Regions from separate parts of the Homo sapiens genome. Here region 1 is linked to region 2. Evidence: fine-mapped expression QTL. A gene starts in region 2. The other region holds a variant in brackets. All regions are shown on one strand. Distances are between the middles of the regions.

Evidence for each region. PIP is the estimated chance that this variant, and not a neighbour inherited with it, causes the effect.
Region 1: its variant is fine-mapped to the expression of BEX4 in tibial artery (GTEx, PIP 0.93).

Annotation. Positions count from the first base shown.
Region 1 is chrX:103,381,967-103,387,347 of GRCh38, reverse strand. No RefSeq gene overlaps it. Among named protein-coding and RNA genes, the nearest start is that of BEX3, 8.1 kb to the right of the region's middle. The variant C/G (reference allele first, on the strand shown) is at 2,163.
Region 2 is chrX:103,212,772-103,218,152 of GRCh38, reverse strand. It overlaps BEX4 (brain expressed X-linked 4), which reads right to left and starts at 3,045. Exons shown (of 3, transcript NM_001080425.4): 1 at 2,915-3,045; 2 at 2,389-2,471; 3 at 907-2,004. The coding sequence starts at 1,999. The coding sequence ends at 1,637.

The DNA of each region.
Region 1 (5,381 bases), 170 kb before region 2:
TTTATTGCACCACCATTCACAATAGCCAAGTTATGGAATCAACCCAAGTGTCTATCCAAGGATAAATTGATAAAGAAAATGTGGTACATATACATAGTGGAATATTATTCCACCATAAAAAGAATGAAATCCAATGATTTGTGACAACATGGATGGAACTAGAAGACGTTATGTTAAGTGAAATAAGGCACACATGAAAAGACAAATGTCATATATTCTCACTTTTATGAGAGAGCTAACAAAATTAATCTCATGGAGATAGTGAACAGAAACACTTTTCTGAGAAAGAGAAAACTATCACATCTAGTATATGATGTATCCCAAGGTGAGAAATGTTGAAAATTTTTCAAAAATAAATCCTAACATAGAATAGGATAATTTAGATCCCATGATATATGCATTACTAGGTTCTCTAGCATTTTGACACATTTTCTTACAGTCTTTCTCTAGGCATATTTGTACTCAATATAATTGTGCTTCCATTGTACCACCAGTGGTTCTCCAGTATTAGTGTGCATTAGAATCTCTCAGGGGAGCATGATAATAATGTATGTTTTGGGACCCAGTTAGAAGTATATTTGAATCATGTAATATTGGGGAAGGGTGACAAATTCTATGTTGTTAACAACAAAGACAGGAGATTGTGAAGCAGGCAGTCTGTGTGAAATGCTTCAAAAATCACCAATACATACTGACATGGACTCCTTCCTCCTAGACCAAAACTTTAGTCAGTCTTCGAGCCTTATTTTTTTCAACTGGGCCTCTATTTCGCCAACTGAGCCCAGTTTTAGCAAAAATCCTGCTGAGTCAGTTTATCAAGAATCCTCCCACCTTTGCCATCCAATCAAGCTCTTCTTCTGCCACTTTTGATGTCTAATCAAGTTCCTCCCCTTCCCCTGATAACTAACCAAATTTCTTACTAGTTTTCCACCCTTTCCCTCACCTTTCCCAGTGGCCATAAAATCCCAGCTGTCTCAGTAGTATTTGGAACTGAGTTCAATCTCTCTCCTCTCTTGCAAGAGTCTTGAATAAAGTCTTCCTTGCTGTTTTTTAAAAACAAGAATCCAATGCAATGTTTATTTTATAATACAATGCTAATTTTTTTTCATTTTTAATTTGCTGTGTCAAATTAAATTTGCTGTAGGAAATGCAAGTCTTTGCTTCTAGAGAAATGAAGTGACTTGCCTGCTGTTCTTTCGTGAAGGGCAGAACTGGGCTAAGGATTTGAGGATCCCCACAGACTTACAATGACCACATTAAACATTTATTCAAGGTTGGCATGGGGGCTTATGCCTGTGATCCCAGCACTTTGGGAGGCCAAAGTGATAGGACTGCTTGAGCTCAGGAGTTCAAGACAGCCTGTGTAACATAGCAATACCTCGTCTCTATTAAAAATAAAAAAAAAAAATTAGCTGAGTGTGGTGGTGCACATCTGTGTTCCCAGCTACTTGCAAGGCTGAGGGTGCAGGATTGCTTGAGCTGGGGAGACTGAGGATGTAGTGAGCTATGATCATGCCACTGCACTCCAGGCTGGGCGACAGAGCAAGACCCCATCTCAAAAACAAACAAACAAAAACAGAATTTACCTAAGGCATACCAGAATTTCTGCTCCTAGATAGATGAAATTTTTCTCCCACATGAAACAACTAAAAAGTTGGATGAAATACAAGAACAAGCTGTTCTCAAGACCTTAGACAACAGGCAACAATGTTTAGTGATCCCTGAGAAACTGGGAACAAATGAGGTTATTCTTATGATTGTGTAATGCCCAACCTGGTTTTTACTAACTCTGTTTTTAGACTTTCCCTTTTCCTTTAATCACCTAGCCTTGTTTCCAACTGAATTGACTCTCCCTTAGCTAAGAGAGCCAGACAGACTCCATCTTGGCTCTTTCACTGGCAGCCCCTTCCTCAAGGACTTAACTTGTGCAAGCTGACTCCCAGCACATCCAAGAATGCAATTAACTGATAAAATACTGTGGCAAGCTATATCTGCAGTCCCCAAGAATTCGTCCGATTGATAACACCCAAAGCCCCGCGTCTATCACCTTGTAATAGTCTTAAAGCCCCTGCACCTGGGACTGTTTACTTTCCTGTAACCATTTATCCTTTTAACTTTTTGACTACTTAACTTCTGTAAAATTGTTCTAACTGGACACCCCC[C/G]CTTCCTAAACCAAGGTATAAAAATTAATCAAGCCCCTTCCTCGGGGCCGAGAGAATTTTGAACGTTAGCCGTCTCTTGGTCGCCGGCTAAAAAAGGACTCATAATTCGTCTCAAAGTGTGGCATTTTTCTGACTCGCTCGGGTACAACAATTGCCCCAGCTTACTTCCTGAAGAAAGTTTTCAGGCCACAGTGCAAGAAGTAGGAATCCAGGCAAAGCCCTGTGGTATCCCAGAGCTTAGAATAAGAAGTTGGGAGTCCAAGGAGGGCAAGGAAGCTGGAGTTCACAGGGCTGTGTCCCAGAAAGGAAAGAGCTGCACAGAGAAGGAATTCCAGAGATCCATGGAGAGCCACTCTTGAATATTTACCTGAGTACTCTTAAATAATAAACAGGCACATTAAAATTTTGAAGAGTTTATTTGAGCAGAGTTTATTCATGAACAGAACAATGCCAAACTGCAAGTGGTTCAGTGTTCCACCAAGGGGGCATGTGAGGGAAATCTTTTATAAAATGTTTTCTAAAGCAAAGCAAAGAAAAGATTTGATTTGTAAAAGTGAAAGGTTTCTAGTTAGTGGTTAATAGGCAGCTTTTGATTGGTAAAGTCTCTAGTTAGAGGTTAGTTGGCAGTTTTTAATTGGTGATGCTTAAATTTTATTTTCCTAGGCTATGACCATTCACTATGAGTTGGGTTTCAGTTTGCTTCCATAGAAACTCTAGTTTGCTAGAGTCACCTCAGTCTAATGGCCTGCCAAGTATTTTAACTAGTACTGATCATTCTGATCATCACATGTCTGTAGGGAAACTACCCTAGATCAGGAAATGATCTACCGAAAAGGATTAAAGGAAATAATTCCTTAAGTTCACACATGTTTGGGAACAGTGCATGTTCCCACTAGCCAGACTTGGAAACCTCATAATTCATAGGACATCAGATAGAGTACTCAGAAAGAATTTTCCTCATTAGTGGAGAACGATTCACTCTAAACTAAACACAACACTGATCCTTTCTTACAAAGTTTTAAAGCAAGAATCTAAAATACCAAACTTTACAAATAACTGTTTTCCAGAATAAAAATCAATATAATTCCAGGGATACGAAAATATCCAGCACTCAATAGGTGAAACTTACAATGTCTGACATCCAATCAAGAGCCTACAAAGAAACAGGAAAATAAAACCCATCATGAGAGAAAAAGCAACCAATCAAAACTGACCCAGAAGTGACAACAATGGTAGAATTAGATAAGGACATAAAAGCAGATAATTAGAACTTCATTGCATATGGTCAAGAAGCTAGAGGAAAGAGTGAATAAGTTAAGTAGAGACATGGAATATAAAAAATATTTAAAAGGCTCAAATTAAACATCTAGAGATAAAAACTACAATGTCTGAAATGAAAAAATATACTAAATGAAGTTAATGGCAGATTACACATTGTAGACGAATAGTATACCTGAAGACATAGCAAAAGAAACCATTTGAAATGAAACACAGAGAGAAAAGACTGAAAAATTAACAGAGCATTAATTGTGGTTGTGTGACAACCATATTGATAGTCACTTGAAGTGGAAATTGTCTTAGCCCTCTAATTACATGACAGAGATTGTCAGAGTGGATAAAAAAAAACAAGACTCGGCCCCTAATATCCTATAACCACAAATATAAGCTGAGCAAAAGGCCTCTTTTGCTAAAAATATAAAACATACCATGGTCCAAGCATCACTAAGACAGTACCCAACAAAGCTAGTACAACTGTAATTCAAGTAGGTCTTTATGCACACCTCTGTAGGATATAAACTGGGACATTAGCACATTGAGGTGTCTAGAGAAATCTGTAGTGATCAAGGCCAGTGGAGAGTGCAGAACTGGGAGAAGTGGGTGGGTCATCATAGCTGAGGGATGGAGTGGGACTGTGACATAGTTTGGCTACTACTCCCAGCAGCTGAAGGGGATCTGAGGTACTTGGATTCTGAATGTGCAGGTGAAAACATGAAGTCATCCAACACCATTCACTCACATGCTCTTTATCTCCTTTGGGTCCCACAGCAGCCCTGGAAATTATCATCTCCATTTTACCAATGTATGGTAAACACTAATGCATTACCATGGCAATAACTACTAAGTTTACATAATCAGCGAAAGGATCCAGAACTAGTTTGAAATTCATTATTCTTTTTCAACAAATTTTCCACCCTTTTAATGACTGACACATTAGTTTGCTTCCTCTTTTAAAAATCAAATTTTAATTACAAACTAAGTAATATGTATTAATTTAGGGAAAAAATAGACAACAACTTAAAATTAATTGATACTCATGTGATCTTAGGAAAAGAAACAAGATGTTGAAGAAAATATTTTAAAACTTTCTTAATACAGTTTGTCTTCTGCTCAAAGCAACAACAAAAACCACTTTAGAATGCATTACTTTACAATCAGAAACACAAAGTTCATTTGTGTGAAAACAAATTTTTTTTTTTTTGAGACGGAGTCTTGCTCTGTTGCCCAGGCTGGAGTGCAGTGGCACCATCTCGGCTCACTGCAAGCTCCGCCTCCCAGGTTCATGCCATTCTCCTGCCTGAGCCTCCCGAATAGCTGGGACTACAGGCGCCCGCCACCACACCCGGCTAATTTTTTGTATTTTTAGTAGAGACGGGGTTTCACCGTGTTAGCCAGGATGGTCTCGATCTCCTGACCTCGTGATCCGCCTGCCTCAGCCTCCCAAAGTGCTGGGATTACAGGCGTGAGCCACCACACCTGGCCAAAAATGATTTTTTTAAATGGGCATACATCTGAAGATTTCTCTCTTCATATGAAACTCAGCAAAGTTTATTTTTATTAAATTGGAAATATTTTCCAACAGAGTAAATTTCTAAACATGCTAATTGTGACTTTTCAAATGTCTGGCAAAAATTTTTTAAAAATTAGATTTTCAAGTTTATAGGGATGCCTTATTTATTGGGTTATGTATAGTTATATCACTTAGAAAGCATTCCAGCTGGTTACACATGAAATATTGACTACATAACATGCTATCTTTCTGAAATTTAAAAACTGGACTTTTCCAAACAAAATCAGTATATTTACTACATAATACATGTGATGTCAGGAAAGGAGACAGAGTAGACGTGGAATTTTGTCCATTTCATTTATAAAACTCAAAACTTTTTCTACTTCTAAGACAATTTTTAAGTTTCGTAAATAAATAGTTCTGTTCTAGTA
Region 2 (5,381 bases):
ATAAAGTGATTTTTGCATAAGTTGTATATGCTTTTCCATTTACACTGATTGGCAATCAGTACATAATGCAAAAATTTCCAAATAATTCTTTGTGGAGGCAATGTGGTGAGAAGACAAGCACCCTGAAGCACCAAGGCTGTGGTCACAGCTTTCACTAATTGGCTGTATGACCTTAGGAAAAATCGCTTTCTTAACAATTCTTCACTTGTGAAACCAAGTTTGCACCAAATAAGTGATTTTCATTCTTTTTTCACTGTGATCTAGTTAGAAATACATCATAAAGGTGGCAATATTTACTACATAGAACACATTATTTTCTCCAAAACAATTCTTAACACTACTCACGGGTGATAGGATGACTTTTGTTCTCTTTTTAAAAAATTGCTTGTTGTAACCCACAAAACTGATTTCAAGAGCCATAGAGTGGCAATCCTAACTTTGAACAACACTAGAGGATCTTACTTTTTTTATCCCTCAATATTCTAAAAATTAAAGTGTACTTGAGATGTAGAAAAACAGTGTATAGAAAAACAGCCCCATTCTTGCTGAGTCTCTTTTACCATCCTCAGCTTGTCATCAAGTTACAAAAGTCAAATATTCTGCATCTCCAGATGATAAGGTCCAATAGAAAATGGCCCAGGCTGGATTCCCCCACCCCCAAGATATTCAGCAGGAGTTAGCCTTGGTACTTAACATCTCTAAGCCCCAGTGACCTCATCTGTAAAAGTGGGATAACAATACAGATTTTATAGGTTGTTCTAAGAATAAAATGAGATCCTGGATGTGAAACTGCTGACAGGGGTGATGAATTCTGAGTTCCTCAGGCTGTGACCTTCAGGCATGTTTTGCTTTGCACAGTGAATAACTTTGCCACTGTCCCTACCACTCCTATAATCATCAGTCTTATTTTAAGGTCTCATACTTTTCTTTTTTAATTACTTGCCCATCAAAGTCAGATTTATCTTGATATTGTTTATTGTTTACGGTTATGACACATTATATATATACACACACACACATATGTATATAGTTACGTACACACACACCAATGGCACTGATTTTGGTACACATCAGAATTACTTAAGAGAGTTTGTTAAAAATGGAGATTCTGGAGCCCCACTCTGTGAGTCTGGACGATAGGTCCTACATTTTTAAATGCCCCTGCCTGCCCCCAAGGTGTTTTTATACAGATGGTAGACTCACTCTGAAAAACACTAGAACATACATTCTTAAAATATCAAACATTGAATTCTGGGTATGATCATTCTTTTTTGGTCAGGGACAAGAAAAAAACTGTCAAAGACAACTGAGATTTTGAGTCCAGGTAGCCGGAGGAGGAAAAGTAATACTTACAAAAATAAGGACTGGAATGAAAAAGGAAGATGATGGAATACAGACTGCTTTTTGAACTGCTTTATGCATTTCATATTATGAAAAGAGTATTTTTCCTAAAATAGGTGAATTGCCATGCTGACCGTAACTTTTAGGCTGAGACAAAACAATATTCAATTAGAATTCTAATTTCCATTAGAAACTGGTAAGTGTAAACCCCAAAAGGCTTACAGAAAAAGTAAATCACAAAAATACAAGCTTGTAAAGCAGTGTTCACATTAACCTCAGCGAAAACTTTTAGGATTCAAGGTATGAGGCAAAAGTCATAATGGTTGTCAGGTTCAGGAGTTTGGAAGCGCATATAGTGCCTCATCTGCTGTTCCCTAGTCTTTCTCTTGATTTCCATCATCTGCCCTACAAACCTTTCTACATCATCTCTCGCTTCATTGTGCTCAATATGCCTATTAGGTATGGCCCATCGAAAATTAGGGACAAGTCGCCTAACTCGCCCCCGCCTGATATTTCCTCCAGGCTTCTGGCCTTCACCCCCTCCCAAATGGCGGGATTCTTCTTCATTCTGCGTGGGGGCCTGCTCCCCTCCTTCGTTTTCTTGTTGGGCATTTTCCCCGTTGAGATTGTTTGCCGCTAGTTCCTCTTTGGACTCCATTACTCCTAGGAGACAAGAGAGAGAAAATGGGCTGAATTCTTGGTGGACTGATAAGCACTGAGGACAGAGGCCCTACTAGGCACCTTTTAAAATTCAGAGCCCTGGACTTGACTTTATACTCTAACATTTCATTTTTTTCCACCTGAGAAGCCAGTATGCCCTGTGGGGTGCCCTCAATCCGAGCCCCTCCCTTCCGCAAAGCCCACCATTTTCCCTGTAGATCCATCTCCAGGCTTCCGCAGGCAGCAAAATGGAGGACGAGGATGGCGTGTGGGAAGGGGAGGGTTGCATGGGGTAGAGGGGGGCGAGGGTGAAGGCATGGATTAGGGTCTCAGACTGGGCTTTCCTCACGTTCCGGCCCCCGCCTCACCACCGACCCTCGCACCGACCTGGGCCTATCCTTGCAGTCTCCTCCTCCGGATTCTTGACGCGAGGTGCGCCGCCGCGACACTTAGCCCCGCAGACCTGCAGACTGCCGGGGTGGGGGAAGTGGGGGCTGCTGCAGCAGAACGCTAGCTAGGAACTACCGCCATCCGGCCCCTCCCCCGCCCCGCCCCGAGGCCCTGGCCCTGGCCCTGGCCCTGGCCCTCCTCGCCACCCTCGCCCCCCGCCTCAGCCGCCCCGCCCCGCAAGCTGACCACCATTTTCTGCACCAAGAAGTGCGGGGCAGGGGTGTCGGAAAAGCTTGCGCTGATGGCGTAGGCAGGTGTTTCCGAAGGGTCGTAGCCCCAGGACCGCCGGCTCCCTCCGGGCCGGGCACCTCTCCGCTCAAGGAAGGCTCGCGGGCCCGCCGCGGGGCCCGGGGGCTGCATCGCGGACCGATTGCTTCTCCGCACGGCTCCCCCGGGGTGGGCATCCGCAGGCCGGAGCCACTCCCTCACACCAACCCCAGGGACCCCCCGCCGGGTTCCTTACCTGCTCCCCCTCCGCTTCCTAATTTCGGGGCCGCCCCTGGCCCACACGTCCTCAGGGCCACCGGGAGCAGGTACCACCGCCGAGAATGGAACGAGCCACGACGGCTCTGACGCCAGAGCGAGACAACACTCAGTGTTGGCCGGTCACGTGGGGCTGTTGTCATCGCCAACGGCTCCGCCCCCGTCCCACGCCCCCTCCTGCAGCCCGGAGTCAGGCGGGGCTTTCGGGTCAGCCCCTATCCTCATCCGGAGTCTCTTTTAGTATCTCCAGACTGGCCGGCCCTTCCACTCTCCTGTCTTTGTGTATTCTTGGGACTTCCTCTGCCTCCCCAAGAGGGAAGCTGTCTTCTCAGGGAGCTGTTGGCCATTCCCACTTCTGTGGGGACTTGCCTCTCCCTGTCCTGGGCTCCCAGGATTTTCCCCACATCTCCCAACCAGGACGCGGGCGCAGAATTTAAAGGGGTGCAAAATTCCTCAGCAGTCAAGAAAAATAACATTTTAATGCAACATTTTAAAAAACAATTATTGCAAGAAAATTTATGATGAGCAAGATGTCAAAAATTTAAATAAAGAGAGCATCAGTCCCGCCCACCCCAATGGCAAACTGTGGTACTTGTTACCAATGCTCATCCTTTTCTCCACACCAGAACGTTTGGGGGGGGACAGGAAATGAGTCAAGGACAGTGGATTTTTTTTCTAATTCTTCTTAATACCTTTCTGTTCTGTTCCTTTTTTTGGGGGGTGGGGCAGAGTCTCGCTCTGTCGCCCAGGCTGGAGTGCAGTGGCGCGATCTCGGCTCACTGCAAGCTCCGCCTCCCGGGCTCACGCCATTCTCCTGCCTCAGCCTCCCGAGTAGCTGGGACTACAGGCGCCCGCCACCACGCCCGGCTAATTTTTTGTATTTTTAGTAGAGACGGGGTTTCACCGTGTTAGCCAGGATGGTCTGGATTTCCTGACCTCGTGATCCGCCCGCCTCGGCCTCCCAAAGTGCTGGGATTACAGGCGTGAGCGCCCGGCCCCTTTTTTGTTTAAGAAACAGTCTTTATAGTTTAACTTTATCTTAACTTTAATGGAAAATTTCGAACATTTGGAAAAATGGAATAGTATAATGCAAACCCCATGTACTAGTCCTCACTCAGATTCCACAGTTAACAACTCATGGCCAATCTTATTTCGTCTTTATCTTACCCGCTTCCCAACCTTAAAATTATTTCTGAAGCAAATTCTAGACATAATATCACTTTAGGCATAAATATTTCAAAGTATGTATCTACAAGATAAGGGTTTTCTTCTTTTTAGCATATAACCACAATACTGTTGTCACATTTAATAATTCACAATTCCTTAATATCATTTTATGTCTAATCTGTGTTCAAATACCCAATTGTATTATAGTTTTTTTTAACAGTTTGTTTGAATCAAGATACAAATAAGATATGCGCATTTTGATTGGTTGCCAAATTTCCTAAATTTCTTTTAATCTGTGGGTTTTCATTTTTTAATTTTTTCTTTAATTATTGATGAAATAGTCATTTGTTCTGTATTTTCCTACAGTCTGGATCTCAGTGGTGTCATTAACACATTATCTCTTTACTCTGTGGTTCCTATAAGATGGTAACTAATTCTAGAAAAGCATCCTGGAATTTGGGTTCAATTTCAATTCAAGTTTGTCCAAGGGAAAGCAAAGACTCTTTCTGTTTTCCTCTTTTTGGGATTTTAGCTGAAATATTTCTATAAAGAGACCCTTCCTATTTTAGGTCGGGCTCCCTAGAAGCAGAACTTGGAACAGAGATCCTTATGAATGTAGTTTCTTGTAATGCTCTCTCAGGTTAAAGGAAGTAAAGGCAGCAGGACAGGGCTGGGGAGCAGGGCAGTGATGAAGAATGGGGTTTAACTAGAGATTAAGTTTAGTTAATCGCACCTGAAAACTCTGAAGCACACACAAGTCATCCCACGTTGACAGTAAGTCACTGGCTTTTTGTAGCTCAGCGTCAGTCACAGATCAAAGTCTGTAGGTGGAGCAGAGCATAGTCTCTGGAGCAAGGTGGCTCCCATTTGGCAGAGAACAATTCCCTGGAGAAGAGGTAAAATGTGAGTTGTATGGCTCAGGCCTGTAATCCCAGCAATTTGGGGGGCTGAGGTAGGAGGATTGCTTGAGCCCAGGAGTTTGAGACCAGCCTGGGCAACATAGGGAGAACCCCATCTCCATACACACACACACACACACACACACACACACACGCATACACACACACAAATTTAGCTGGGTGTGGTGGCACGCAACTTTGGTCCCGCCTACTTGAGAAGCTAAGGAGGGAGAATTGCTTGAGCCCGGGAGGTCAAGGCTACAGTGAGCTATGACAGCACCACTGCACTCCAGCCTGGACAACAGAGTGAGACCTTGTCCCCTCACTCCTCCCGAAAAAAGATGTAAGTTGTTATCAGCCAACACACACAGCCAGGGAAGG